Homo sapiens: one gene and its partners. The protein of the gene in region 3 purifies or fractionates together with the protein of the main gene of each other region. This does not show direct contact. Each region holds a gene or a part of one and is shown on either strand. Other genes may lie near its edges.

Region 1 (10,418 bases), on a different chromosome or scaffold from region 3:
GGTGGGCCTCGGAGGCACAGGGGAAGGTGCCCCTGCTCCCACTGGAACAGCTGCCACACCTTCACTCCCAGGCCACTGTTCCCCGCCCCTACTGCCCTCCCCCTGGCAGATCGGACCTCCTCCCTTTCTCCTCAAGCTATGGTCTAGTCACATTCAGGAAACGTGTTATCATAAGCACATTGGTCTTGGCTAAGGAAGCCTGGCTTTCTCTATTCTCCTGAAAACCTGTACCAAGGGAAATCTCTGGGGACAGTGAGTCTATTGCAGGGTAGGGCAGAGTCTAGGGCTGGTGGTCTCAGGCACTAGGGGGGCAAAAACATCTTGGAGGAGGAGACCCCCAGCTCCTCCCCCCAACCCTCCTCTCATCAGTTCCACCCTTCATACCGTCCCTGTCCCAACCCAGAGAATGTGGAGCGTTTCTACAGCCGAGGCTGACCCCGTGGTCCCCTCTGTGCAGCTCCTGCGCAGCAGAAAGTCTGCTGTGCTTTTGTGACAGCTGTATTCGTGTGTCTCTAGCTGTGAGTAACTGTCAGCTGCTGTGAGATTTGGTCTCAGGAAGGTCCCTCTTCAACACATGGCCTACTTTCCAGGGGTAGGGAACACAACGGGGTCAGGGAGGACGGCAGGGCACACCCCTCATGCCCGGCAGTGGCTGTCCCTGTCCTCCAGACGTCTCCTCGTGGATCGTGTATCCCAGCGGCAAGGTGTATGTGGCAGCCGTGCGCCTGGAGCGTGTGGTGCTGACCTGTGAGCTATGCCGGCCCTGGGCAGAGGTGCGCTGGACCAAGGATGGAGAGGAGGTGGTGGAGAGCCCCGCGCTGCTCCTGCAGAAGGAAGACACTGTCCGCCGCCTGGTGCTGCCCGCTGTCCAGCTCGAGGACTCCGGCGAGTACTTGTGTGAAATTGACGATGAGTCGGCCTCCTTCACTGTCACCGTCACAGGTGTGGGCCCAGCCCAGCTCCCCGGGGTCACAGAGACAGCCCTGAGCCCTGGAGGAGCTGGCCACATAGCCCCAGCTAGCACCCCGGGGAGGAGGGAGGTGTGGGCTGCAGGTGCATGTGCCAGGGTTCTTGCTGAGATGAGCCCAGGGCCCCTATTCAAGGAAACAAGCCCCTCCCCGGTGCCCAAGGCCAGGCCTAGCTCTGCTCCACAGCTCATTTACTGAGCACTTTCCCTGAATCAGGCACTGGGAGTAGCAGGTGAGTAATGCAAATACGGTCCCTATTCTGAATGAGCTGCCAGGCTAGGTGAGGAGGCAGCTGTTAACCAGGGGTCGCAAACGGGTAGTCCTGGGGCCCTGCGCATTCCACACATGTGCTTTGTTTGGTCTGCAGAGTCTTACCAAAGTCAGGACAGTTCAAATAACAATCCGGAGTTATGCGTCCTCTTGAAAAAGCCGAAGACCCGGCGGCTCTGGTCCCGCTTCCCCCCATGGCGACGAACAGCTGGCACTGAGTAGCAGCTGCCCCCATAGTTTGGGGCCCACATTCCTCTGTCCCACCTCCCTGCCATTGCTTTTTGCCTCTCCCCAGACTGCTTCAGCCGCTAACCTAACCTGGCCCCTGTGGGCATTTGAGTTTGCGACCCCTGTGTTAAACCAATAAACATGCAAATAAATGTACAGTGACACCTGGTGATAAGTACTGTGAGGGCCAAGGGCAGAGGGCTCAAGAGCACAGAGCAGGAGGGTCAGGGAGGCCTGGGAGAAAGTCACCCTTCCACACACGGGAGCCAGCAGCACGCAGACACGGCCGCTTCCCTCTAGGACTGCACAGCCTGGCAGGAAAGCCAGACGCATTCCAGGATCTTAGAGCATGGGTTGTTGAGGGCCAGTCTAGGGACCCTGGGGCTGGGAGCCACCACCCTGGCCAGGCAACAGGAAGTGCTTTCAAAGCTGATACTGGAGCTAAGTGGGGTGGGGTGTGGGGGAATATTCAAAGCGGGAGAAGCACAGGACAACTGTGGAAGTGACGGAGGTTCAGTGCCGGAGACCTCGGGGTGACGGCTCACAGCGCCCAGCCCAGTGTGTGTCTGGGGCTGGGGGTCCATAGGGCTAGGCAGCTCTGGGGGGCACAGAACCCCAGTGGCTGCACTGGAGCCCCCATCCTACTGCGGCCACAGTCCTGTCCTCTCCCAGCCCTGCCCTGAAAGTCACGCCCCATGCAGAGCTGTTTAGGGCCCCCCTGCTCCTTGCACCCCAGCTAATGCACTCTACACACACAAGCCCACAATGCCTAAGAGGCCTTCTGCACATATTCTGCCCTGTCGTAATCATCTTCACCCTCTCCCACCCAGCCATGGCCAGACAGAATGGCCACAGCCACACAAACTCCAGCCCATGCTCAGGCTCCCCACAAACACCAGTCTCTTCACAGGGAAGTTCACACAAACACCACCTCTGCTCTAGGCCAGAGCGAATCAAGTCTGACACCAAGCTGAGGTCCCGGGGCTGGGCAGCCACCCGGTCCCATCACTGCACCCTGTCCTCACCCCACTGCCCTCATCACCTTCCCCACTCCTCAGGCAGCTGCATTCTGGTCTCTCCTGGCCTTGCTCGGCCCCAGAGGACCAGCCTGCATCCCCCAGACCCTTAGAGCAAGCAAGCCCATGGGGGAGGTGGGTTGTGTGGCTCAAGGCAGGAGTCTCCGTGGAGGCTGGGGGGCTGAGTGGGAGCTTGTGGTTACCTCGGCCCATGCATGCCCCTATAAACCACCCCCAGCCCCCACCCCCCCAACCCTGGCCCCTGATTGGGAAGCTAGCAGTTCCTCAGCCCAGCCACCAGGGGGCCAGAGGCTAATGGAGCAGTAGTCGCCCCAAAACTTGAAGATTCTGGGGGGACCTGGGGGCAGCAGGGGTGTGGGCAGGCCTGGGCTCCATGCGCTGGTCACCTCTAATATTGACATGGTTCCCTTTCTGCAGAGGAGTGACCAGAACTTGGAGATGAGCTCCCAGAATCAGCATTTAGCACCCCTGGGGAACTCTCAGACAGACGTTGAATGCAAAAAGCATTACTGAGTTCCTGCAAGCCTTGGCTTGGAATTCCTGCCACTACCTGTGGGGTCTGAGCCTCCCTTTAACAGAGGGTATTTCCTCCTCCTGCCCCAGAGTGGGTGTAGCCAGCTGTGACCTTAAGGAAGTTGTATAATCACTCTGTGCCCAGTCCCTTATATGGAAAATGGGGACAAAACACTACCTTCCTCTTAGGATTGCCGTGAGAGTTAAATGTTTCAAGTGCTTGGGACTGTTCCTGGACCTTAGGAAGTGTCATATCAATGTTTGCTATTGTAGATCCACCATCCCTTATCCATGGTTCCAAAATTCCAAAACTCTCAAAATCAAAAGGCTTTTTGTAAGTTTTGTATTCCAAGTCATTTCAGGAAAACCTGAGCTTGATTGCTCTGAAGCTATTTCTATGCTTTAATTATCCTGCTGAGGGTGAATATAGCTATAGCTGTATATCTATAAGATATGAGTGTCTTATAGATATATGCTTGTATCTGTAAGATTCTGTATCTTTCAATCTATCCTGCTTAGGGTGAATGTAGTATGTGTTATACCACAGACATGTTAACGTGACCGATGAAGGGGGAGGCTCCCGTGGGGGCTGAGGAAGGTATGTGATAGATGAGAAACGCATCATTTCTGGAATCCAAAGCATTCTGGATTCTGTAACACCCTCTGGCCCCAGGGATTTCAGAGAACAAACTGTGGACCTATTATTGCTTATTATTATTTTACTTATTATTCTCATTATTATGTGGGTGATAGGGACTTCATGCTGCCGAATGGCTCCAGAGAGGCTGACGGTGAGCTTGTGACAGGCTGTGGTTGTCCCCACCCTGCAGAACCCCCAGTGCGGATCATATACCCTCGCGATGAGGTGACCTTGATCGCCGTGACCTTGGAGTGTGTGGTGCTGATGTGTGAACTGTCTCGGGAGGATGCCCCTGTGCGCTGGTACAAGGATGGGCTGGAAGTGGAGGAGAGCGAGGCCCTGGTGCTGGAGAGGGATGGGCCACGCTGCCGCCTGGTGCTACCTGCTGCTCAGCCCGAGGACGGGGGCGAGTTTGTATGTGATGCTGGAGATGACTCGGCCTTCTTCACTGTCACTGTCACAGGTGGGCAGTCTCTGCAGCACAGAGAGGAGGTAGAGAGGTAGGGGGCTAAGGGACAGACACCCACCTAGCCCCACCTCCCCCACCCCATCCCCAGCCTTCCCCTTATCCAGCTTCCTCATGTTTGGCCATCAGAATCCTGCTTAGCCACATCAGGTCAGGACCAGAGGCCTGGTGGGAGGGTGCCCAGCAATTAGAACCATTCGTTCATTCATCCATTCGTTCAATACTCATTGAGCAACTACTATGTGCTTGGCACTGTTTTAGATGCTGGGGATACAGCAGTGAACCAATAAGACTAAACCTCTTGTCTTCACAGAGTTTAAACTCTGGTGAGGGTGGACAGACAAAAAATAAAAGAGATGGTTTGTCAGGTGGTAACAAGTGCATCAGAGGCAAGGCAGGGAAAGGGGATAGGAAGTGGGGATGGGTGTGGAGTGGGGTGTGTAGATCTGGGTGTGAGTCTAGATCTGCCTCTTTCTGTCTGTGTGACCTTAGGCAAGTCAGTTTCTTCTAAAGAGGCCTCAGGTCCTCAGCCATGAAGTGCAGCCAGCAGCTGTGCACCTCTTGAGGGTGGTCAGAGTAACTGATTGAAAAAACACAGGGTTCTTAGGACAGTGCCTGGCACACAGCAGCTGCTCCATGGACTGCAGCTGGCACTGTTCTCAAGAGCTGTGCTGCCAGTGGGGAGGGCTGAGGATCTGGCGGGTGAGGCAGGAGAGGCCTGCTGGCCAAGCCTATGTGCCCCTCTCCATGCCCACCCACCAGCCCCACCAGAGAGGATTGTGCACCCGGCAGCCCGCTCCCTGGATCTGCATTTTGGGGCTCCAGGGCGCGTGGAGCTGCGCTGTGAGGTGGCCCCAGCTGGGTCTCAGGTGCGCTGGTACAAGGACGGGCTGGAAGTGGAGGCATCAGATGCCCTGCAGCTGGGTGCCGAGGGGCCCACCCGCACCCTGACCCTGCCCCACGCCCAGCCTGAGGACGCCGGGGAGTATGTGTGTGAGACCCGGCATGAGGCCATCACCTTCAATGTCATCCTGGCTGGTGGGTGCTCCTGGCCAACCCAGGGCAGGGAGGCAAGGGCAAGCATGGGATGACACCTTCCTCTCTTCTCCAGAGCCTCCAGTGCAGTTCCTTGCTCTAGAGACAACTCCAAGCCCGCTCTGTGTGGCCCCTGGGGAGCCAGTGGTGCTGAGCTGTGAACTGTCCCGGGCTGGCGCCCCCGTGGTCTGGAGCCACAATGGGAGGCCCGTGCAGGAGGGCGAGGGCCTAGAGCTCCATGCCGAGGGCCCCCGCCGAGTCCTCTGCATCCAGGCTGCAGGCCCAGCCCATGCAGGGCTCTACACCTGCCAGTCTGGAGCAGCCCCCGGAGCCCCAAGCCTCAGCTTCACCGTCCAGGTGGCTGGTGAGTACAGCCTGGGCATTAAGCCTGAGAGTGGCACCAAGCCTGAGAGTGGCACCCCAAACTCTGCGGGATTCCTGCTTTTCCAGCATGCCTTGCCCATCCCTGGCCCCACTTCTCTCAGTACCTTCCCCGTCATGCCTCCCCGTGCCCTCCTCAAAGCCCTGAGCCTCTCCCTCCCAGTGACCTCCAGCTCTGACTCCACAGAGCCCCCTGTGCGGGTGGTAGCTCCCGAGGCAGCCCAGACGAGGGTTCGGAGCACCCCAGGCGGGGACCTAGAGCTGGTGGTGCACCTCTCCGGGCCAGGGGGCCCTGTACGCTGGTACAAGGACGGGGAGCGACTGGCAAGCCAGGGGCGGGTGCAGCTGGAGCAGGCCGGGGCCAGGCAGGTGCTGCGGGTGCAGGGGGCACGGAGCGGGGACGCTGGGGAGTACCTGTGCGATGCGCCCCAGGACAGCCGCATCTTCCTTGTCAGCGTGGAAGGTAACAGTGTACCCCTCACACCCTGTGGGCTGTGGCACCCCAAGGACCATCTGCCACTTTCTAGGGCCCCCTTACTCCTCCACCCCCGCTTTGCTGCTTCTGGCTCCAACCAGTGCGTGCATGACCATCACTTGGATAGGGGCTCAGGGCTCCTCTTTCCAGAAACCCTCATGTTGAGAGCAGCATAAACCAGTGGTTAAAAGCAGGGGCTCTAGAGTCCACCCAGCCAGGTTCCAGCCTAGATTCTGTGCCCCAGTAGCTGTGTGACATTGGCCAAGTTGTTCAACCTGTCTGAGCCCCGGCTCTGAAAAGAGGGGATAGTGCTTTTCTTATAGGCCTGTTGTGACAAGTAAATGCTGTAAATAGGGTCCCTGGTAATTGATATTATTAGGGTGCCACCAAGGTGGGGTGCTAGGCTAGGATTATGAGGAACTGACTAAAAGGAGTGGCAGGGAGCTGGCATCTTGTCCTTTGGGCCATCGGTGTGGTCGATACATAGTAGGTCCTCACAGAAGGTCTGTTAAATGACTGGGGACGAGGGCCTGCATCCTGAGGAGGGGATGAAAAGGAGAGAGAAGAAAAGACTCAGCCCAGCTCACTGCCTTACCGTGCCCCTTAGAGCCACTGCTGGTGAAGCTGGTCTCGGAGCTGACACCACTCACTGTCCACGAGGGCGATGATGCCACGTTCCGGTGTGAAGTCTCCCCACCAGATGCCGATGTCACCTGGCTGCGCAATGGGGCCGTCGTCACTCCAGGGCCCCAGGTGGAGATGGCCCAGAATGGTTCAAGCCGCATCTTAACCTTGCGAGGCTGCCAACTGGGGGATGCAGGGACCGTGACTTTGCGGGCAGGGAGCACGGCCACAAGTGCCCGGCTCCATGTTCGAGGTTAGGTCCTGATGAGGATGAGATACTCTGTGTCCCGTGCCTGTACTCCCAACCAGGATTCCAGCAGCCTTGCCTCTCCACCTAGGGACAGACCAGTGGGATGGAGCAAGGGGCCAGCCTCCAACCCCACCAGACTCCATGGCCTCCTTCTTCCCCACCAGAGACAGAGCTGCTGTTCCTACGGCGGTTGCAGGATGTGCGGGCAGAGGAAGGCCAGGATGTGTGTCTCGAAGTGGAGACAGGCCGAGTGGGTGCAGCGGGGGCCGTGCGCTGGGTGCGAGGTGGGCAGCCCCTGCCCCACGACTCTCGCCTGTCCATGGCCCAGGATGGGCACATCCACCGCCTCTTCATCCATGGTGTCATACTGGCCGACCAGGGCACCTACGGCTGCGAGAGCCACCACGATCGCACCCTGGCCAGGCTCAGCGTGAGGCGTGAGTGCCCCGTCCTCTCTTAATGCATTACCCACCCTACACCACAGCCTTTTCTGGCTGTCCTGGAGTCCCTCAGGCCCCCACCAAAGTGCCCCTCATCGCTGAGAAAAGTCACCCATGGCCGTCCCAGCAGCAGCTTGCCCAAAGCAAAACTTTTCTTTTTCTAATATTTTTTATTTACCTTAGAAGTCCATGTGGATTTTGCATTCCATTGCATATTTCCAAGTCGGCTTTGCTATAAACACAAATATTCTCCAGAAAGACTTGCCATGGGCATCCTTCAGGCATGTATTCTAGGGATACACATACCCACTTAAGTAGCAGGGATGGCTGTCAAACAGCACCCCACACCTCCCACCCAAAGCTGGAGCCCTCTGTTTCCTATGTGACCTCATGCAAGTTAACCTCTTTGAGCCAAGTCTCCTTAAAAATGGGGCTGAGACCAGGTGCAGTGGCTCACGCCTATAATCCTAACACTTTGGGAGGCCAAGGCAGGAGGATCCCTTGAGGCCAGGAGTTCGAGGCCATCCTGGGCAACATAGCAAGAACCCATCTCCACAAAAAAAAATAAAAATTAGCCGGGCATGGTAGTTACTAGGGAGGCTGAGGCAGAAGGATTGCTTGAACCCAGGAGGTTGAGGCTATAGTGAGCTATGATCATGTCACGGCATTCCAGCCTGGGTGACAGCAAGACCCTGTCTCAAATTTTAAAAATGGGGTTGATCCCCGTCTCAAGTGTCTCTGGGAACATTAACTGAGATAACATGAAAATTCTTACACAGAGCTTGGTGAATGGTTGTCATTTGTGACACATCTCTTCTAACTTATTTCATTCAAGAAATCATCACAATAAACCTGTGTCCCAATGTTATTCACCTTGTACAGCTGGGGCAACTGGGGTCCAGAGAGGTCAGGCCATTTGCCAAAGATCACATAGCACACAAACTATGTGGTAGAGCGAGGTTCCATTCCTAGTGTGTCTGACTCCAAATTCCGTGCTCCTTCAAGTGTCACAGCACCCCTCACCCAGACTCCACGACCCCCTAACCACACTTCTCCCCCTTCCTGTGCCCTCATCTCCTAACCCTGATACAGCCCTCCCCCCGCCAAATCTGTCCACCGTGCTCCTTTCTTCCTGCACCCTGGTTCCGAACTTTTTTGGTCAGGACCTTAGGTTGGGTGTTCAGGGGTGTAGGCAGGGCCAAGGGATGAGGATTGACTGCAACCCCTGCCCAGAGCTGGAGGCCTCATCCTCCCTCTCTCCATCTCCCCCGGCCAGCGAGGCAGCTGAGGGTGCTGCGGCCTCTGGAGGACGTGACCATCAGTGAGGGGGGCAGTGCCACCTTCCAGCTGGAGCTGTCCCAGGAAGGTGTGACCGGGGAGTGGGCCCGGGGTGGAGTACAGCTGTATCCAGGACCCAAGTGTCACATCCACTCGGACGGCCACCGTCACCGACTGGTACTCAATGGCCTGGGCCTGGCCGACTCAGGCTGTGTCTCCTTCACAGCGGATTCCCTGCGCTGCGCAGCCAGACTCATTGTGAGAGGTGTGGCCTCCAGGACCACAGCCTGCCTGCTGACCTGTGTGGCCCTACTTACCCCAGGCATGAATACTGACCCCCAACTCGTGTGACCCCCACTGACCATGCCTGTCTCAGTGTGGCCCTCATTGACATCCCTGCCAGAGTGTGATCCCCCTGACTCATAGGCCCTGTGTGGCCCCAGAGTCCTCTGCCTGGGTGTGGCCCCTGACTGCCCAAGGCTCAGCCAACCACTGACTCTGCTACCAAGAGCATGCCTTTGCCATTGTGGTCACTGCTGTCTGCCCGCCTGCACACCACCCCACTGACCACTCTAACTGTGACCCTACTGGCTACACTGTCTGCCGTGGCTCCCTCTGCCCGCCTAAGTGTGGGCCCCGTGACCACTCCAGTCCCTTGAATCCACTGACTGCCTACGGGCGACATCACTAGCAAGTCTGCTTGAGTGTCCCCCATTTTTACTTCCAGTCCCAGGATGTTCCCACTGACCACTCCACTGGCATCTCTGCTTGTTTCCCCATTGCCCTCTGGCCCCCAGCTTCTCCCCCACTGACCACCTTAAAGTGTGACTCCCAGTTGGCCACTCCTAACCCATTGGCCCTGTGGCCCTGCCCACCTACATCCCCCCCACCCCCACCACTGACAGATCCTTCTTGGACCACTTGTCCCAGCTCGAACCCCACTCGCTAGTGTCCTCTACTGCCTGTTGTGCCCAAGTGTATGTCCTCCTTGTCCCTGCAAGATGGGTCCCCATCCTGCTCCCTCTGCACTGTCCTCCCTCTCCCACCCCCAGAGGTCCCAGTGACCATCGTGCGGGGGCCACACGACCTAGAGGTGACCGAGGGCGACACAGCTACGTTCGAGTGCGAGCTTTCCCAAGCTTTGGCTGATGTTACCTGGGAGAAGGTCAGATCCCAGCCCCAGCCAAGCCCACTTCAGTGTAACACCAACGATAATAATGCCCCAGACAGAAACAGCTAATATTCCTTGAGCGGATGTGCCTGGCACTGTGCTAAGATTTGCATTATATTTAATCCCTTACTCCAAGGACAACTCTAGGAGGTAGGTCTTGTCACTGTAATACCTATCAGGAAACTGATGCTCAGTGGGAAAAATTACCTACCCAAGGGCAGACAACAGGTAGAGCCCATATTCGAATCCAGGTTTGCCTAACTCCAGAATCCGTGCCCATGTCCCCTGTGATCGATACCTGGCTCTGGGCTTCCCGAGTGCCTTGGCGGCCCTAAGGTCCCCAAAGGGTGACGCTTTTTCAAAGAGGCTCCTGGCACGACCCCAAAGGCTTGGGGACAGTCCGACCCCAGCCTGGGAACACGAGACACGCATAAACGCGCCTCGAGACCGCTTGGCATCAACAAAGGGTGCGCCGCCTGCCAGGGCCGGGGTCGCCTGTGCCCAGCCGGGCTCGCCCCGACCCTCTGCAACTCCCGCCCCTAGGACGGGAACGCGCTTACGCCTAGCCCGCGGCTCCGGCTCCAGGCCCTCGGCACGCGCCGCCTTCTCCAGCTGCGACGCTGCGGCCCCTCGGACGCCGGG
Region 2 (7,000 bases), on a different chromosome or scaffold from region 3:
CAAATTATTTTACTATAATCTTTGTATGTAAGTGTAAAGGGTTGCTCAGGGAATTAAGGCACCGTCTACAGATGAGTTGTAATCTTGCTGAAAGGCAGAGGAATGGACAAAGGTTACCTCCTAATGTCCTTTTAGTTTCCTCCAAAGGAACAAATCCCCTTGTTCTGCCTCTTGGTCCATTATTATAGTCACTGAGGTATAGATAAGGCACATCTCTACATATCTAACATGCCTTCTTCACATATCGTCTGGTTTTCTTTTCTCTAGTATCCCAGTCGACATCAGTGACAGTGATATGATGCTGAACATCATCAACAGCTCTATTACTACCAAAGCCATCAGTCGGTGGTCATCTTTGGCTTGCAACATTGCCCTGGATGCTGTCAAGATGGTACAGTTTGAGGAGAATGGTCGGAAAGAGATTGACATAAAAAAATATGCAAGAGTGGAAAAGGTAAACTTTCAAAGTGTATACATTGGGTCAAATTATATGTTAGCATGAGTCATCTCACTTGTGAGGAAATAGTCTGTTTTTCATGCCGTTGTTTTGTTTTGTTTTTGAGACAGAGTCTCACCTTGTTGCCTAGGCTGGAGTATAGTGGCACAGTCACAGCCCACTGCAGCCTCAAACTCCTGGCCTCAAGCAAATCCTCTGATTTGCTAGGACTACAGGCACATGCCACTGTGCCCAGCAAATTTTTTTTCTTTTTGTAGAGATGAGGGTCTCATGTTGCCCAGGCTGGTCTTGAACTCCTGGCCTCAAGTGATCTTCCCACCTCAGGCTCTCAAAGTGCTGGGATTATAGGCATAAGCCATCATACCCTACTTGAATGAAATAGTTTTAAATCAGAGCAAGGTATGTTTTTTGTTTGTTTGTTTTTTTGAGATGGAGTCTTGCTCTGTCGCGCAGAGGCTAGAGTGCAGTGGTGCGATCTCGGCTCACTGTAGCCTCCACCTCCCGGGTTCGAGTGATCTCCTGCCTCAGCCTTTAAAATAGTTGGGATTACAGATGCCTGCCACCACGCCCAGCTAATTTCTTTTTGTATTTTAAGTAGAGACGGGGTTTCACCATGTTAGCCAGGATGGTCTCGAACTCCTGACCTCAGTGATCTGCCCACCTTTGCCTCACAAAGTGCTGGGATTATAGGGTGAGCCACTGCGCCTGACCAAAGCAAGGTATCTTTAGTTAGAACTAGGAAGAACTATACTTGCTGCCTGGAAACAAAAACCTATAAGAGGCTACCAAGTAGGAATTTCTTCAAATAGTTTTGTTGTTACCTTCACTGCTATCCCTACACAAGGTTTATGAGGACAAGGGACAGGCTTATTGGTGTCTCCATGTTTGTGTATTTGCATACATCAGTCATTTGGTCAGGATATAAGCTTAACAAGGGCTCTATTATGTAGTGCTATTAAAATAGTAAGCCCCAGAAAGCTTTCTCTCCTGTCCACTAAATTTCATTAAGATCCAAAAGTTTAGTAGTATAGCTTGTGGCCAGTAGATGGAGCCCCAAGCCTAAAATTCTCTGGCAATATATTTATTTTTTTAATTGGAGAGACCTAAGCCCTTATTTATTTATTTAAATAGCAATTGGGTCTCAATGTGTTGCCCAGGCTGGTCTCGAACTCCCGGCCTCAAGGGATCCTCCTGCCTGAGCCTCTTGAGTAGCTGGGATTTTAGGTGTGAACCACTGTGCCTGGCTCATAAGCCCCTCTAAGTCTTTTGTCAAGTCATTGAATTTCAGTGAGTCTCAGCAGACCTTCAAGTTGAGTGTCATGGTCTAAAATTGGTGTATTTCCTAATGGGAAAAAAATGTGATTCCAATAATATTTTTGAGCTTCATCAAAGAAAGGTACTTTAGAAACCTGAAACACTGGGCCGGGCGTGGTGGCTCATGCCTGTAATCCCAGCACTTTGGGAGGCCGAGGCGGGCGGATCACGAGGTCAGGAGATCGAGACCATCCTGGCTAACATGGTGAAACCCCATCTCTAGTAAAATACAAAAAAAAAAATTAGCCGGGTGTGGTGGCGGGCGCCTGTAGTCCCAGCTACTTGGGAGTCTGAGGCAGGAGAATGGCGTGAACCCGGGAGGCGGAGCTTGCAGTGAGCCGAGATTGCACCACTGCACTCCAGCCTGAGCGACAGAGCGAGACTCCATCTCAAAAAAAAAAAAAAACCTGAAACACTAGCTGTTTGGGAAAGATGAACATCTGGGAAGGAAATTAAGAAATTGTCTCTTGATTGTGGATTAAAGTGCAGTTGTCTTTTGTTCAGATACCTGGAGGCATCATTGAAGACTCCTGTGTCTTGCGTGGAGTCATGATTAACAAGGATGTGACCCATCCACGTATGCGGCGCTATATCAAGAACCCTCGCATTGTGCTGCTGGATTCTTCTCTGGAATACAAGAAAGGAGAAAGCCAGGTAAGGTTCTTGGCCTTGTTCCTTAAAGTAGATGCAAGAATCTGACTGCAAATATGAACAACAGAAATAAAACGTATGTTTATTGCATGCCTTCTGGGTGCATAGTGTACACTGACTCTTAGAACAATCCTTTAGAATAGTTGGTATTGATTTCATTTTACAGATGAGGGATCTGAAGCTCAAACAAGTTAGGTTAATTGCTTGAGGAATACAGCTAGTATTGGCCAAAATCAAGATTTGAACCTGGTTGTGTTTGGCTTGTTTTATACGATCATGCTGCCTTTCCTAATGCACCAGGGGAACATAAGGTAGGAGTTAATTCAGCTTTGAAGTACTAAAGGAGAATTTCAGCTTAATGCAGTGGCTCACACCTATAATTCTAGCACTTTGGGAGGCTAAGGCAGGTGGATGGCTCGAGCCCAGGAGTTCAAGACCAGCCTAGGCAACATGTCGAATACTGTCTTTATTTAAAAAAAATTAATTGGGCGTGGTGGCATGTGCCTGTAGTCCCCACTACTTGGGAGGCTGAGGTGAGAGGATTGCTTGAACCCAGAAGGTCAAGGGTGCAAGGAGCTGTGATCACGCCACTGAACTCCAGCCTGAGCAACAGTGAGACCCTGTCTCAAAAAAAAAAAAAAAAAAATTCTAGAGGGCAGGAGGCTCACAAGGCTCCATCACATTTGGAAAGAATAAGAATCAATTAGTGGGAAGAATTAAGACCCAGGATTTTCCTGCACACTGCCAGGACAGATGTAGGATTGGACTGGGTGGTCAGAGACCTTAGAAAGGCCAAACTCAACACTAATTACTGTGTGACTTTCAGTTCTGGTTGTTTTATAATGATATAACTGGAGCTGGCCGGGCGTGGTGGCTCACGCCTGTAATCCCAGCACTTTGGGAGGCAGAGGCGGGCGGATCACGAAGTCAGAAGATCGAGACCATCCTGGCTAACGTGGTGAAACCCCGTCTCTACTAAAAATACAAAAAAAAAGTTAGCTGGGGGTGGTGGCAGGCACCTGTAGTCCCAGCTACTCGGGAGGCTGAGGCAGGAGAATCGCTTGAACCCAGGAGGCAGAGCTTGCAGTGAGCCAAGATCGCGCCATTACACTCCAGCCTGGGTGACAGAGCAAGATTCCGTCTCAAAAAAAAAAAAAAGCAAAACTAAAGCTAAATTGGCTTACAGAGGTGTTGAGGTCATGGCTTTAACATAATTCTGACTCTGAGATACGTGGGAGAGGTGGGTGGAAGGAGTATAATATGACCCTTAGAGCTTCACCAGTCCAGGGATTTTAAAATCAGTGTCTTTTCTTTACCACACAGACTGACATTGAGATTACACGAGAGGAGGACTTCACCCGAATTCTCCAGATGGAGGAAGAGTACATCCAGCAGCTCTGTGAGGACATTATCCAACTGAAGCCCGATGTGGTCATCACTGAAAAGGGCATCTCAGGTGGGACTTTGTTACTTTTTCCAGCCTACCTTTGAGGTAGACGAGGGTGGGTGATTTGTTTTCTCCCCTCATGTTTGGCAGGGGCGTAATAGTGTCATGGTTAAGAGTACTTTGATTATAAAACCAGTTCAGAACCCAGCTTGACATCTCTACTCTTGGATTTGTAGATTTAGCTCAGCACTACCTTATGCGGGCCAATATCACAGCCATCCGCAGAGTCCGGAAGACAGACAATAATCGCATTGCTAGGTGAGTAGGCCAGGTAAAAACAAGACTTTTCTTCCCGTGTGTTTCCTTTTTGTAGTTGCGTAACAGTCATCATTACCTGAAAAGGTTTAATAAAGGATATAGTAACAGGTAGAAATAACCTTGGCTTAGCTGCCTGCCCTCTTCAGAAGTCCTCTAGTCCAACAGTTATTTACTGCGTGAGTCTCATCTGTACTGCCCCTAACCATTAGTGAGCAGCTTGTGCTTAGACATTTGTAATTGCTACCTTGGTGGGTGTCCGTTACATTTCTAAATAACTGCCTATCTAAGAGGTTTTCTTTAATGTCATTATGATGATTTTTGAATGAACATTTCCAGAGTATCCTAAGTGGCCTGGATTATAGCAGAACCATCAGTTTCCTCAGCTACATCCTTAGCTGCGATTTATGCGATTCTAGATTGCATTCACTACTTCTGCACTGATGTCTGTGCTCATAGACCATTCTTTTTAATAGACAAGGTCTTGCTGTGTTACCTAGGCCTGTCTCAAACTCCTGGGCTCAAGCAGTCATCCTGTTGTCAGCCTTTCCAGTACCTGAAACTATTGGCATGCGCCACCATGCCCAGCAAAGTTCATTCATTTTTAATTTATCAAAAAGCTGACAAATCTACCCCAACATAATATATCACAGATCCAAATCATATTTTATACTTTTATACCCCAAAGGGTATTAACATGCATACACATAGTTGACTTCACATGGCCATGAGTTGGAGGGAGTGACAAGCAATTAGTCCTACATTCATTAAACTTCGGTCAGACGTATGCAGTCATCCCTTGATATCCACAGGGCATTGGTTCTAGGATCCCCGCCCCCTTGAATACTAAAGTTTGTGGATGCTTAACCCTTATATAAAATGGTATGGTATTTGTGTATAACCTATACACATCCTTCTATACACTTTAAATCACCTTTAGATTGCTTATAATGCCTAATATAGCATAAATGCTATATAAATAGTTGCTATACTATATTGTCTTTAAAATTTATATTATTTTTTGCCGTTGTATTATTGTCCATCCCCCCACCCCACCCCCCCTGCCATGTTATCAGTGCATGGTTGGTGGAATCTGGATGCGGGACCTGCGGATATAGAGGGCCAACTCTACTTACATGTTTATTCGCCTTCCTCCTTGCTTGACCTTTGCATCTTTGGTACAGTCTTTATTATTCGCCTGGAGACTCAACTGGGCAGTACAGGATGGGTTATATCTAGAAGTTACCATTATATAGTATAGACATGTTAATTTTTTTCTTTTATCTTTCTTTTTTGCAGGTTCTAATTCTCTAGTTGAAATATGTACATGTTAGATATGCATGAGAACTAATTTGTCCAGATTTTAGTAACCACAAAGTATATTTTGAATTCAACTATATCTGGTTATAGTAGTGATGACTAGTTGCCTTAAGTGTACAGTTGACCCTTGAACAACTTGGGGGTTAGGGGAATCAGTCCCCAAGGAGTTGAAAATCCATGTATAATTTTTTGACTCCCCCACTCCTAATAGCTGACCGTTGACCCGAACCCTTACCAATAACACAATTAACTATCACATATTTTGTATATCATATGTGTTATATACTGTATTCCCTTAAATAAAGTAAGCTAGAGAAAATGTTATTAAGAAAATCATAAGGGCAGGGCACGGTGGCTCATGCCTGTAATCCCAGCACTTTGGGAGGCCAAGGCAGGTGGATCACCTGAGGTGAGGAGTTCAAGACCAGCCTGGCCAACATGGTGAAACCCCATCTCTAATAATAATACAAAAATTAGCTAGGTGTGGTGGTGCATGCCTGTAATCCCAGCTACTCGGGAGGCTGAGGCAGGAGAATTGCTTGAACCAAGGAGGCGGAGGTTGCAGTAAGCTGAGATGGTGCCATTGCACTCCAACCTGGGCGACAAGAGTGAAAGTCCGTCTCCAAAAAAAGAAAATCATAAGGAAGAGATAACACATTTACTATGCCTTAAGTGGAAGTAGATCATCAAAAAGGTCATCATCATCTTCATGTTGAATAGGCTGTGGAGGAAGAACGGGCTGGTCTTTCTGTCTTGGGTGTCAGAGGCAGAAGAGTGGTAGAAGGGGAGGCAGGATGGGCAGGAGGCACACTCAGTGTAACTCAATGGAAATACATCGTGATTTGTCTGACTTCTGCTTTTTTGTTTCTCTAAAAATATTTCTGTATAGTACCAGTCCCTCTTCCACTGCTTCAGTTTCAGTGCCTCTATCATAGAAGGGTCCATATCATAAAAGAAGTCAAAAGCAGTCTTGAATAATCAGAAGCCTTCTGCCAGATTGTCTAATGTCAGTTTGTTTTCTGGCACTGCTGCTTCTACATCATCTTCCTCATCGTCTGGCACTGCTTTGGAAGCAGTCGTCTCCATCAAGTCATCTTCTGTTTGGTTTTTTTTGTTTTTATTTTTTATTTTTTTGAGATGGAGTTTCGCTCTTGTCGCCCACGCTGGAGTGCAGTGGCACAATCTTGGCTCACCACAACCTCCGCCTCCTGGGTTCAAACGATTCTCCTGTCTCAGCCTCCCGAGTAGCTGGGATTACAGGCGTGAGCCACCAAGCCCAGCTAATTTTGTATTTTTAGTAGAGACGGGGTTTCTCCATGTTGGTCAGGCTGGTCTTGAACTCCCGACCTCAGGTGATCCACCCACCTCAGCCTCCCAAAGTGCTGGGATTACAGGCGTGAGCCACTGCACCTGGCCTGTCATCTTGTGTTAATTCCTCTGATGTAATGTCTGTTAGCTCTTGAGTTTCTCCAAGATTCATATCTTGAAACCCTTCACCACCGCTATGCCAGTTTTTTTAGCCACATCCACAGTCTCTTTCATGATTTCCTTGATTG
Region 3 (10,418 bases):
AGCCTTAAAATACAGAGAGCACTAAGCTTAGGCTAGCTGCATTAAACTGGCAGTTCTACCTGAAAATACACTTTTTTCTAGTTGCCGTTTAAAATGAATCTTTCACCAAAGGCCATTGTCAGTGCTTTGTAGATAAAGCTATTGATTTTGGCATATAAGGTTATATTTAAAATCCTCTTTAATATTTAATAGCCCAGGTTCAGTGAGAGCAAACAGAATCATGTATTGATTTCTTTAAAAAAATACTATTTTTAAAATTAATTTGGTCATAAAAAAAGCCTACATTGTAATACCTTATTGCTTGTTCTCTTTGTTTTCTGGGTAGAAATATTAGCAGAAGGTCAGGTCCTCCTTAATGAAACTGCCGAGCCAGACACTGAATAGGCTTCAGCTTGCCATCAGCTACGGTGTTCCTCATTATCATATGGGAGTATTTAATCCAAGCCAATAGGAAGCACGCCCTGAGTTGTGACCCCCCAATTACAGAGTCTCAGTGCTTGCTTCTTGCCCTGACAAATATAAAGTTGTGTGCTGTGCTCGTGCTACTGCTGCCTGCTGTTAGAGAGAGAGTGATTGGGGCGTAAATGTTGCATTTGCTCCATCTGCAAGTGTTATAATAAGTTATTCAGAGCTCTTAACACAGGACCAACCAGAGCGTGCCTCCCTCTCGGTTCCAGCACGTTTTCCTGCCCATCAGATGGATGCTCCTCTGTTGGAGTCTTTGGAAGGTTCTGGTGTCTTTTGTTTTAATTGGTGGGCTACCGCCGACTCCTATGGTGTGATTTTCATTAGAGAGGGGCTGGAGAGAGGGAGTGTTGGAACTGTCCTCCAAGCCCAACCATGAATATTAAACATAATACAATTACAGCTTTCAGACCAATTATTTTTCCTTTCAATGGGCAAAGTTGATGAAATACTCGCTAGATGGGGATTCACAATATCTACCATTGGCTCCTCTTTGTCCCTGGAATCGGTTGTCTTGGCATATTCTGGTGCCCATTTGCTGTGCTACCTGTTTCCCAGCGTCGAGTATTTGGTTTGAGTGCTGAGCTGACGACGGGCTTTGCCAAGGCGCACGGCATTCGGGCCTGTGCTGCGCGCTGTCAGATGTCCGAGGCAGATACCTGTTTCTTCATGTGAATCTGAATGGCTTGGGTGGACTTAGCACACTGTGCTGTCTGCTGTTTCTGTCGACGAGAAGCCAGAGTGGTGCTTCTCTAAGGAGATGTCAGAAAAATGTTTTTCCTTTTTCCCAGGGGGGAGAAATTCAAGGCTGGTTTGGCCTATTTTTTTTTCCTTAGTGATATAAAATACACTGAGGCCGCATCTTTTGGTTTATTTGTTTATTTTGTTTGGAGCCATCCATGCTGGTATCTAAATACAATAGGAAAACAGATGGCAAACTTTGAACTTCTGGACCAAATTTGTGTTTGCCTTTGTCTCCTTAACAGCCAAACTGTAAATTATGGAGTATAAATATTCAACAGAGGAGCTCTTTATGGAAATCACCATAGCTGAATAGACTCTGATTAACCAAATATGCACTGAAAAGTACTTGGTAAACACTTCCGCTCCCCCTTTCCCCAATCCTTTTCAAGTTCCCATTATGGACTAAGGTTAGAGTTCTCTTTACAGCATTTATACTTTTTCTCTTCTCTTACCTACGCATGCCTAAGGATAGGTGTCTGTAAACGTGACAGAGAGAGACCTTTGTTTACAAAGTCATCTTCAAGCTCTCTCTGCATCTTTCTGCTCCCAGATCCCTCACTGGCAAGTCAGGGACTGAGCAGCATTTGTAGCAACGGACCTATTATGTATCATCTATACATTATCATCTGTGTCCACTGGATGGACTTGTTATGGATCTCAGAATTTTGGATCTAGCAGACCTCTTCAAGACCATCTAATGCTGGTCCAGAAAGGTTCAGTGGCCAGTCCGAAGGGCTTGTTAATGTTGGCCACATAGAATTTTATGTTCTCTATACAGAGAACTCTCAACTTGTCCCTGGAATCGGTTGTCTTGGCATATTCTGGTGCCCATTTGCTGTGCTACCTGTTTCCCAGCGTTGAGTATATCTATTCACTTGGGTTGCCTTGTCAGTTACATGGCCTAGCAGGAAGAAGAAACAGTCTCTCCTCTGTGTCCTAAAACGACGTGTTGTTCCATCCTGTTTTATTTCACCTTTTCTAAGAAATAGATGAAAGTATTATTTTTTAATTATGAAACCGAACATATGTATGGGAGTGTATATAAGGTGCGCATACAGTTTCAAGAGTAACCGAGAATGCCCGCGCATCCACCTCTCAGCTCAAGAAAGAGAGTGTGACTGTTGAAGGCCTCCCGGTCATGAATGAATTCTTGTTTTTTAAACATGGCAGCGTCCAGAATAAAACACAAAAGCCGCCTTTATTGCCCTCTTTCTTCTCCAAGGTAATTGTTGTTAATGTTTCAAGTACGTGCTTCCAGAATTTGATCTTTAAAATTGTTTGGTTTTATTTAAACAGGAAGTACGCACATTCAAAATGGGCCTCAAAAGCAGAGTAGCCTAGAGGGCGAAGCGCACCCCTCTTCCCAGCAGCCTTGTCAGCCTCCCTCATTGCGACTGCTTAAATGCTGAGCGTTCTCTGGGGGCCGCCCACACACGCACAGCCTAAATGCATGTCCCCCAGCACACACCTGTGCGCACGGCTGCCAGTCAGCCTGTGTAGTTCTGCCCCGGGTCCCACTGTATGGATGTACCATAATTGCTTTAACTAGCACTCAGTTGAAGAGCTAGTTAATCGTGTCACCTACGTCATTCCAGTTCATGACAGCTAAAATGTGTCTGATTTTTCCTGTCAGTCTAATTATCTTTCCTTAATAGGTAATGTCTTTTTCTCTCAGGCTGCTTTTAGGACCTCTTGGTCTTTGTGTTTCCCCATTTTTTAAATTATACTCTTAGATATGTATTTTGTGTTTGATTCGTGTGCATTGAGTCGGCATGCATGTCTTTCATCAGTTCGGGAAACATCAGCTGTTAGCTGTCCGCACTCTGTTTTTCTCCTTCCGGAACTTGGGGCGTGTGGTGCACCACCCCTTCTGTCCCTCATGTCTCTTATACCCCCATTCGCAGTTTTCATATTTATCTCTTTGTGCTCCATTCTTGGTAATTTCTTCACATTTTTCTTCTGATTCACGCATTCTCTGATCTGCTTCCAGCCTATCTCCCAAATTTAATTTCAGGGACTATACTTTCATGCTTTTGTATTGAAAGCAGGAGTCTCCATACTCCGCTCCCTGCCTAGGGTGGCCCTTCAGTGTGTTTGATGAAACCACGGAGCTGAGCCTGGCGCTTGCCAGCAGCCTCCCCTCCCCTGAAGTCGCAGCTCACCCTCTCCTGTCTGGTTTTCAGCTCAGGTCCTGGGGAAGTCACTTCCTACGTGAGCTCAGCAGTGCCCTTAAAAGGATTTTATCCAGCATTTTTAAGCGTTTTACAGTGGAACTGTCAACATGTTGTCTGAAACAGAAGCCTCTTTTGCAACTAAGAGCAGTGACTGGCCTTGCGTGTATGTGGACTCTTGTGTAGCTACCTCCTCGAAGTGGAATTGCCGGCTCAGAAGTGAGGTGCATGTGGTATTTGGTTGGATATTGCCAAGTCACTCCCCAGAGAAGGATTTCTGCTCGCCTCAGCTGTCTAGGAGTACCTACCTGTCCATGTCTCCCTGCCACACAGTGCCTCGTAGGGCATGTTACCAAACTTTACCTTTGCTGGGTAGATTGGTGACAAGTGGCATTGCATTGTAGTTTTACTGTGTAATTTATCTGATTACCAGCAAACTTAAACATCTTACACATGTTTAAAAGCCATTAGTATTTTTCTGTGAATTGCTTTTTCTTATCTTTTCTGTCGATTTAATAATGGGTTGTCAGTCTTTACTAATTTGAAGGCATTTATTATAAGACATTAGCCCTTTTTGTTGCAAACATTTTCCTCAGTTTATCATTGGACTGACTTTCTGATTGTTCCCCCCAATAGGAAAAAGTTAAACCCTTTTTTCACCTTCCATATTTTGTTATGTTTAGAAAGGTCTTCCTCCTTTGAATATGTTTTATAGTTTATGTTTAACTCTTTGCGCTCTCTGTAATTTGTGTAATATATGTGATTGATAGAGCTCCAAGTTGAGAAAATTATTATAGAGTATTTTGCCTCTAACTGCTGTTACAAATGGGACATTTTCTTTGATTCTATTTATTTTTAAACTAGATTTTAGCATATAAATTTATATTTGACTCTGTGTTACTGAATTCTCTGGGACTGTCCCTTCTCACTGATAAGAAGTCTACCCACTTCTTTCCGATTTTTTTTAACCTTTCATTTTTTCCTTTTGTCTAATTGTGTCTGGTTTTTAAAAAGCGATGTGAAGTAATGGTGGTGCCAGTGCCTCACTGTTTCTAAAGACCACATCTGGAATGGCTGTGACGTTTCATCCCGTTGCTTTCGGCTTCCATGGACGTGACTGCCTGGTTTTTCGTTGATTCCCCTTGTCTGTGGCATCTTGCTGTGGAGTCTGTTCCTGATGTTTCACTCGGATATGTAGTTTTCTTTGATCATGCTCTCAGGGTTAGGCTTTGGTAATAGAATGCTGGCTTCATGGAGAATTTGGAAGCTTTCCTCCTTTTCCTAGGCTGTGGAACAGTTAACTTAGCCCTGGAGGCAGCTGGTCCTTAACAGGTCTGGCCAAAGTCACTTGTTCTTTTTTTGCAGGGATTGTTGCCCCTTGCTGGCTTCCTCAGGCTGCTATTTGTTATTTTATCTACTTGGATTTTCTGTCTCCTGGGGATTCGTTTTGATAATTCTTATTTTCCCAGAAAGCCATTTACTCATCTAAGTTTTCAGATTTGGAGATTTTAAAAATTCAAGAAATAGAAATAATTTCTGAATAGATTATAGTGACTAAAGAAACTATTAAAAAAAAAAAAAAACAGGCTGGGTGCAATGGCACATGCCTGTAATCCCGGCACTTTAGGAGGCTGAGGTGGGTAGATCCCTTGGCCCAGGAGTTCGAGACCAGCCTGAGCAACACAGCAAAACCGTCTCTACTGAAAATAAAAAAAAAATTAGCCTGGTGTGGTAGCACGTGCTTGTAGTCCCAGCTATTCGGGACGCTGAGGTGGGAGGATCACCTGAGCCCAGGAAGCTGAGGCTGCAGTGAGCCATGATGGTGCCACTACACTCCAGCCTGGGTGATGGGAGTGAGGCCCTGTCTTTAAAAAAAATAATAAACAACAAAACCTATAAAAAGAAATGTGATCCATGGAGTTTGTTTTTCCAGGTCTGACCGAACACTGAGTAAACTGCCCCTTCGTTGTTTTAAGTGCTCTCAGTGAATGCTTTTGCCTTGAACTACTCTGCCTTTTCTAGCATTAAAATTGCAACATCTTTTCATCCTCCTTTACAGATGTGTTTTTCATGCATAGCATATATTTTTACTTTGTGATCCATGGGCAGCTCTTCTTGTTAATAGGAAGGTTTGTCCTGTGTGCCTCCATGGACCCAGCAGACACACCAGGTCCCACTTAAGCCATCTGTCTTCTTGTTCTGGTATTTTGCTATGCCACTTTCTTTCAGAGAGTATCCACAGGTAGTTCACTTTGAGTCCTTTTCTGTTAAAGAAAAAGAAGTCTTTCTTTATTATGCCTTCACACTTGGTAGCTAAGCTAGGTATAGAATTGTTGGTTCAAAATAATTTTCCCTCAGAACTTGGAAAATTGACGTGTGTGCGCATGCTTGCATAACTAGAGTCAGGGCACGGGACATGTTTCAGAGAATCCTGTCGCTCCACAGCTTTTGGGTCAGACGTGCGTTTTTAATCTTACATCCTTGTGCTTGTCCTGTTCCTTGCTAGATGCTGGGGTCTTTCTTTTCAGGGCAGGGACTGTCTTTTCCTTTTCGACTTGCATCACAGGGTCTCTTAAGCTCATCTTTACATTTATTAAATGTAATGAATTTGATTTACTTTTAGCCTTTGGCTTATTGTAGAAACCAAGTAGGGTGGTGTTTGTAGTGGATACGAGATTTCTGTCCCATTATCTAATTTATCCTCGTGAAAAATTCCACATACATAAAAAGTAGTTTTTAAAGAGGTTCTTAAAGAAATGGGGATTATTATAAGGCAAGTAATTATTTCAATAAGTGACTGCCCAGGGTACACACACCCTTATCCCCGCTCTGCTGTGCTTATCAAGGATAAAGGCTTTCCCTTTCTCAGTTCCAGCAAGACAGCAATGAACTTACAAAGTCAAGTGAAATACCCAAAAAGTGTTCTTTTCCTAACCGGGTCCTCACCCGGTTAGGATCTGGGGTGTCTGGCTTTGTAGCTCTTGCCTTTAACAGGTTATTTTACCAACAGCAAAATTACTGTGCTGGGCAGTACACCTACTGCTGGGACAGGCGTCTCAGGCCAACCTGCGCATGCAGTCATGCAGGTGGCTTTTCCCTGTTAAGCAGGTAAAGTGGGCAGCCACTGTCCTTGGCCTGCGTCTTTCTTGCTCCATGTGCTTTTAAACCATTCAGATGAGACCGTGTGGGTCCTCCCTGACAGTCTGTGCTTGATGTCCTTATTATCGATGTTTGTTTGCAGCTGAGGAGTTTTTCATAGCAGTGTTGTGCATAGACCAGCACCGTGGAGGGGGAGTTTGTCATTTGAAGCTTTGACTCTAACCCCATTTCCCTTCTCTGCTCTTCCTGGGCCTGTCCAGGGTGAGGATCCACGACCTCCGCAGTGGTAACATCGCCCTGTCGCTCTCCGCCCATCAGCTCAGGGTCTCTGCTGTGCAGATGGATGACTGGAAGATCGTCAGTGGAGGCGAGGAAGGCCTGGTGTCCGTGTGGGATTATCGGATGAACCAGAAGCTGTGGGAGGTGTATTCCGGGTAAGGTGCATTCTAGACACTCTTGGGAGTTCCTAGTAGGAACAGGGAAGGCAGCACTAATCAGCCTGCACCAGGCACGGTGCTAAATGCCCCCTACCCCCCGGCTTCGCCAGGTGAATCCTTACTGTGACCCTAGGAGCCAGCTGCTGTCCCAGCACCGCTCTGCAGAGGAGGAAACAGGCTTGGAAATGGCGCTGGTCAGTGGGGATGCAGTTCCTGTCTCTGACATCATTCAGATCGCCACAATTCCTACATTAGCCAGGCCCAGCTTTCTCTAAGAATGAAACTACTTTTTTGCAAGTGCTATTCTGATTATTTTAGGATTTCTCCATCTTAATAAACAGAAAAGGGAACTCAAAAACATAGGAAGCTCGCTGGGCTAGACCAGGATGTGACACCCCACCTGCCCACAGGTGGAAGGCAGGGCTGGCCCAGCTGCTGTCCTCCACTCGAGTCCGTCATGTGTAACCATGGTTCTGCCCGTTGCTTAGACTTTCCTCATGCTGTTTACAGAGAAGAGCACTTAGGACTGAAGGGGTTCAGGCTCCAACGAAGGAGGAATTTGTCATTTCCACCTTTAACACCACTATTCAAAATATAAATAAATACTATCCTAAGCACAGGCTGATGGCGTCACAGAGGTAGGTAGGTTTACGCCAGTGGCACCTAACTGGTTAAGACATTTCCAGTGAGCCTGCTTCTGACCTTCAAAGCAGCAGCCCAGCCCAGGGCTGGCTCATCAGAGCTGACTTGAGCCCACCTGCCACCACCTCTACCTGGCCCTGCAGGCCTCGAACAGGAGACCCTGCGTTTGAGACAGGTGGGGAGAAAGGCAGCCGGCCCTCTCGCTTGCTGCCCTCAGCACCACTGTGAAGAGACATTCGGCCAGACACGTGGCTCACCTGTAATCCCAGCTACTCAGGAGACTGAGGAGCTCTCAAGGCCAGGGGTTTGAGGCTGCAGTGACTGTGTCACTGTACTCCAGCCTGGGTGACAGAATGAAACCCCATCTCTACAAAACCGAGATGATTCTGGGCCAGTGGCCTCTGAGCATGACAACATAGAAGAGCAGAAACAGGGCAAGGCCCTCCCACAGGAACTAAGATTTGTTCCCCACTTACCGCAAATCAAGGTAAACCGACCTCTGAGAACACAACCTCTGAGCAGCGACATGGTCTTTATGGAAGTGCAAGGTCAGCAATTTGACAGGTGTCTCCAAGAGGCGGCAGGGTTACATGCAGAATGGGCTTCTTCCTTGGAGGGCAGTGTTGGCAAACACTGTGGCCGGCACATTTTATCAGACAGAGCCCTGGGTACTGCCTGGCCCGCCCCCTCGCTGTGGCTGTGCCTGTTGAGGGCGCCTCGGCCCTTTTTCTGAATGGTGATGCACTGAATTGCCACCAGGTGGTGCCAAACGGCAACTAAAACTCCCGCACTGAAATTCCCGGAAGCATTGCCTTTGAGGAAAACCCTGGATCAGCCATCCAGGTCCTCAGGGATGGCTGCCAGCCCCCAACTCCAGTAGATCTCATTTTTCTCTCAGCAAAGCTTCACTCCCTGGGACAGGCCACTGAGATGAAGCCTAGCTAAGGAAGGCCTTCCCCAGAGGTGTGGCCCTGTCCCAGCACTGCCTCTGTCCCTGTGCGGTCCAGGCTTGTCCCCCACGTGGTCACTGTTTTCACCAGCACAAGGCTGACAGACACATGGTCTCCTGCCCAGAACTCACTGACTTGCTCAAGGCCTCACCTGCAGTGCCTGCTGCCAGGCCCCAGTCTGGCTGTTGTTTGGTCACTGTCATGTACCTCCCGCTGTCCGCTTCAGTCTCTTCAGCCCAGGTCCTCGCCTGCCTGACAGGGTGCCGTCAGTCCTCCAGGCTGCAGGCCTCCACCAAGCCTGCCCTCCCTCCCCGGGTCTTTCTCATCCTCCAGGTCCCATGCCAGGTCCACCAACACTTTCCTTCAGTCCTCCAGGCTGCAGGCCTCCACCAAGCCTGCCCTCCCTCCCCGGGTCTTTCTCATCCTCCAGGTCCCATGCCAGGTCCACCAACACTTTCCTTCAGTCCTCCAGGCTGCAGGCCTCCACCAAGCCTGCCCTCCCTTCCCGGGTCTTTCTCATCCTCCAGGTCCCATGCCAGGTCCACCAACACTTTCCTTCTGTGGGTGTCCCAACCCCAGGGAGGCAGGGACTGCTTCCCAGCTTCCCTCACTTCCAAGAATCCTTTGCTTTAGTCAAGGAGAGCAGCCCTGGCCCAGCCCACACAGGCCTCGTCCCCTCCTGTGCACCCCTCCCAGCCCACAGCACCTCCTGCTCCTCCCAGCACTTAACTCTGGGTCACACATTCTTTGTAGCTTGTAACATCGCTCGTGCTACAGAAACAATGGTCATGTTTTCTGGGACTGCATCTTACCTTCTTCACTAGCTAGGGCTCTCCCTGGGCCAGGCATCCACCTGGATGAGACATCTTTTTAATCCAGTGTCTCCTAGCTCAGTGCCGTGACCACAGCCGGTACTGCATGAAAGTTTCAGAATGAACGCAAACCTCTGTTCAAGAGACTTGGAACCATTTTGTTCCAAGATTTTCCGAACGTGCTTTCACCACCCAGGGTACGTGTGTCATTGCAGCCCTATGAGCAGGATGTGGGGGGCACCTTCATGGATCAACAGTGAACGTGCCCCCAGTGCTCCATAGATGATGGAGAGCCTGGCTGGGAAAGCTCAAGGGACTTGCCCAGGGAGGCAGCGATGGGCCAGTCTCTGTTGCATGTGGCTGATTCGTCTGCAGTAGGGTGTGCCCTTTATGTCTGGAATGTACCAGGTTGTGGGGGCAGATGCCAGCATGCGTACGGGGCATGCAGACCTGTTTACAAAGTCATGCCCAAAGCGTGGCCTGCTCACCTGAGCTTCGGGAACTGAGGTGAGACACTGCTTCCATGGGGGCCCTGTTCCCTCTGTGAAAGAGAAGCTTAGCTTTATGGGTTCTAGAATCCCCTGCAGCTCTGAACTCCCAGGCCTGCGGCAGCAAGTGCAGGCCCAGTGGACGCCCCCTTACGAGCTCTCTCCCACTGCCTTCCAGGCACCCGGTGCAGCACATCTCATTCAGCAGCCACAGCCTCATCACGGCCAACGTGCCTTACCAGACGGTAATGCGAAACGCCGACCTGGACAGCTTCACTACTCACAGGAGGTTAGTGGTGGGGCCGGGCGAGTAAGAGACCATCTTAGTTTGACTGATGTATAGAACCCCACCCCCCCCGCCGTGACACATTGCACCCTATGGGCTATACCCTCAGGCAGGGCCCTGCCTTTCTGCGAATTGGAAACATAAACGTGGATGCTGACCTGTACTGAGCACCCAGCATCTGATGCAGGACAGCCCCGTGGGGCGAGTCCACGCTGTCGGCTGTACAGAGAGGGAGGGCAAGCCGTATGCTGAGGGGCCTGCTGTGGTTAGAATCCTGTCAGGGGCAAGGCCCGCCCTCTTGAGTCCTTGCCCTGTGACACTCAC

Evidence for each region.
Region 1: the proteins of FBXW8 (region 3) and OBSL1 purify together in Homo sapiens (affinity purification with mass spectrometry; 2 studies listed by BioGRID and IntAct, with this or other methods). This does not show direct contact.
Region 2: the proteins of FBXW8 (region 3) and CCT3 purify together in Homo sapiens (affinity purification with mass spectrometry; 3 studies listed by BioGRID and IntAct, with this or other methods). This does not show direct contact.

Annotation. Positions count from the first base shown.
Region 1 is NC_000002.12:219,552,926-219,563,343, reverse strand, and holds part of OBSL1 (obscurin-like protein 1 isoform 1 precursor), read left to right. Parts: intron 1-669; coding exon 670-942; intron 943-1,335; coding exon of another isoform or gene 1,336-1,460; exon of another isoform or gene 1,461-1,622; intron 1,623-3,846; coding exon 3,847-4,119; intron 4,120-4,884; coding exon 4,885-5,160; intron 5,161-5,233; coding exon 5,234-5,521; intron 5,522-5,725; coding exon 5,726-6,001; intron 6,002-6,620; coding exon 6,621-6,890; intron 6,891-7,051; coding exon 7,052-7,324; coding exon of another isoform or gene 7,325-7,347; exon of another isoform or gene 7,348-8,195; intron 8,196-8,603; coding exon 8,604-8,870; intron 8,871-9,657; coding exon 9,658-9,770; intron 9,771-10,319; coding exon 10,320-10,418. UniProt on the Homo sapiens protein: Core component of the 3M complex, a complex required to regulate microtubule dynamics and genome integrity. It is unclear how the 3M complex regulates microtubules, it could act by controlling the level of a microtubule stabilizer.
Region 2 is NC_000001.11:156,314,293-156,321,292, reverse strand, and holds part of CCT3 (T-complex protein 1 subunit gamma), read left to right. Parts: intron 1-267; coding exon 268-454; intron 455-2,275; coding exon 2,276-2,425; intron 2,426-3,745; coding exon 3,746-3,878; intron 3,879-4,045; coding exon 4,046-4,127; intron 4,128-7,000. UniProt on the Homo sapiens protein: Component of the chaperonin-containing T-complex (TRiC), a molecular chaperone complex that assists the folding of actin, tubulin and other proteins upon ATP hydrolysis.
Region 3 is NC_000012.12:117,017,408-117,027,825, forward strand, and holds part of FBXW8 (F-box/WD repeat-containing protein 8), read left to right. Parts: intron 1-6,739; coding exon 6,740-6,913; intron 6,914-9,986; coding exon 9,987-10,097; intron 10,098-10,418. UniProt on the Homo sapiens protein: Substrate-recognition component of the Cul7-RING(FBXW8) ubiquitin ligase complex, which mediates the ubiquitination and subsequent proteasomal degradation of target proteins.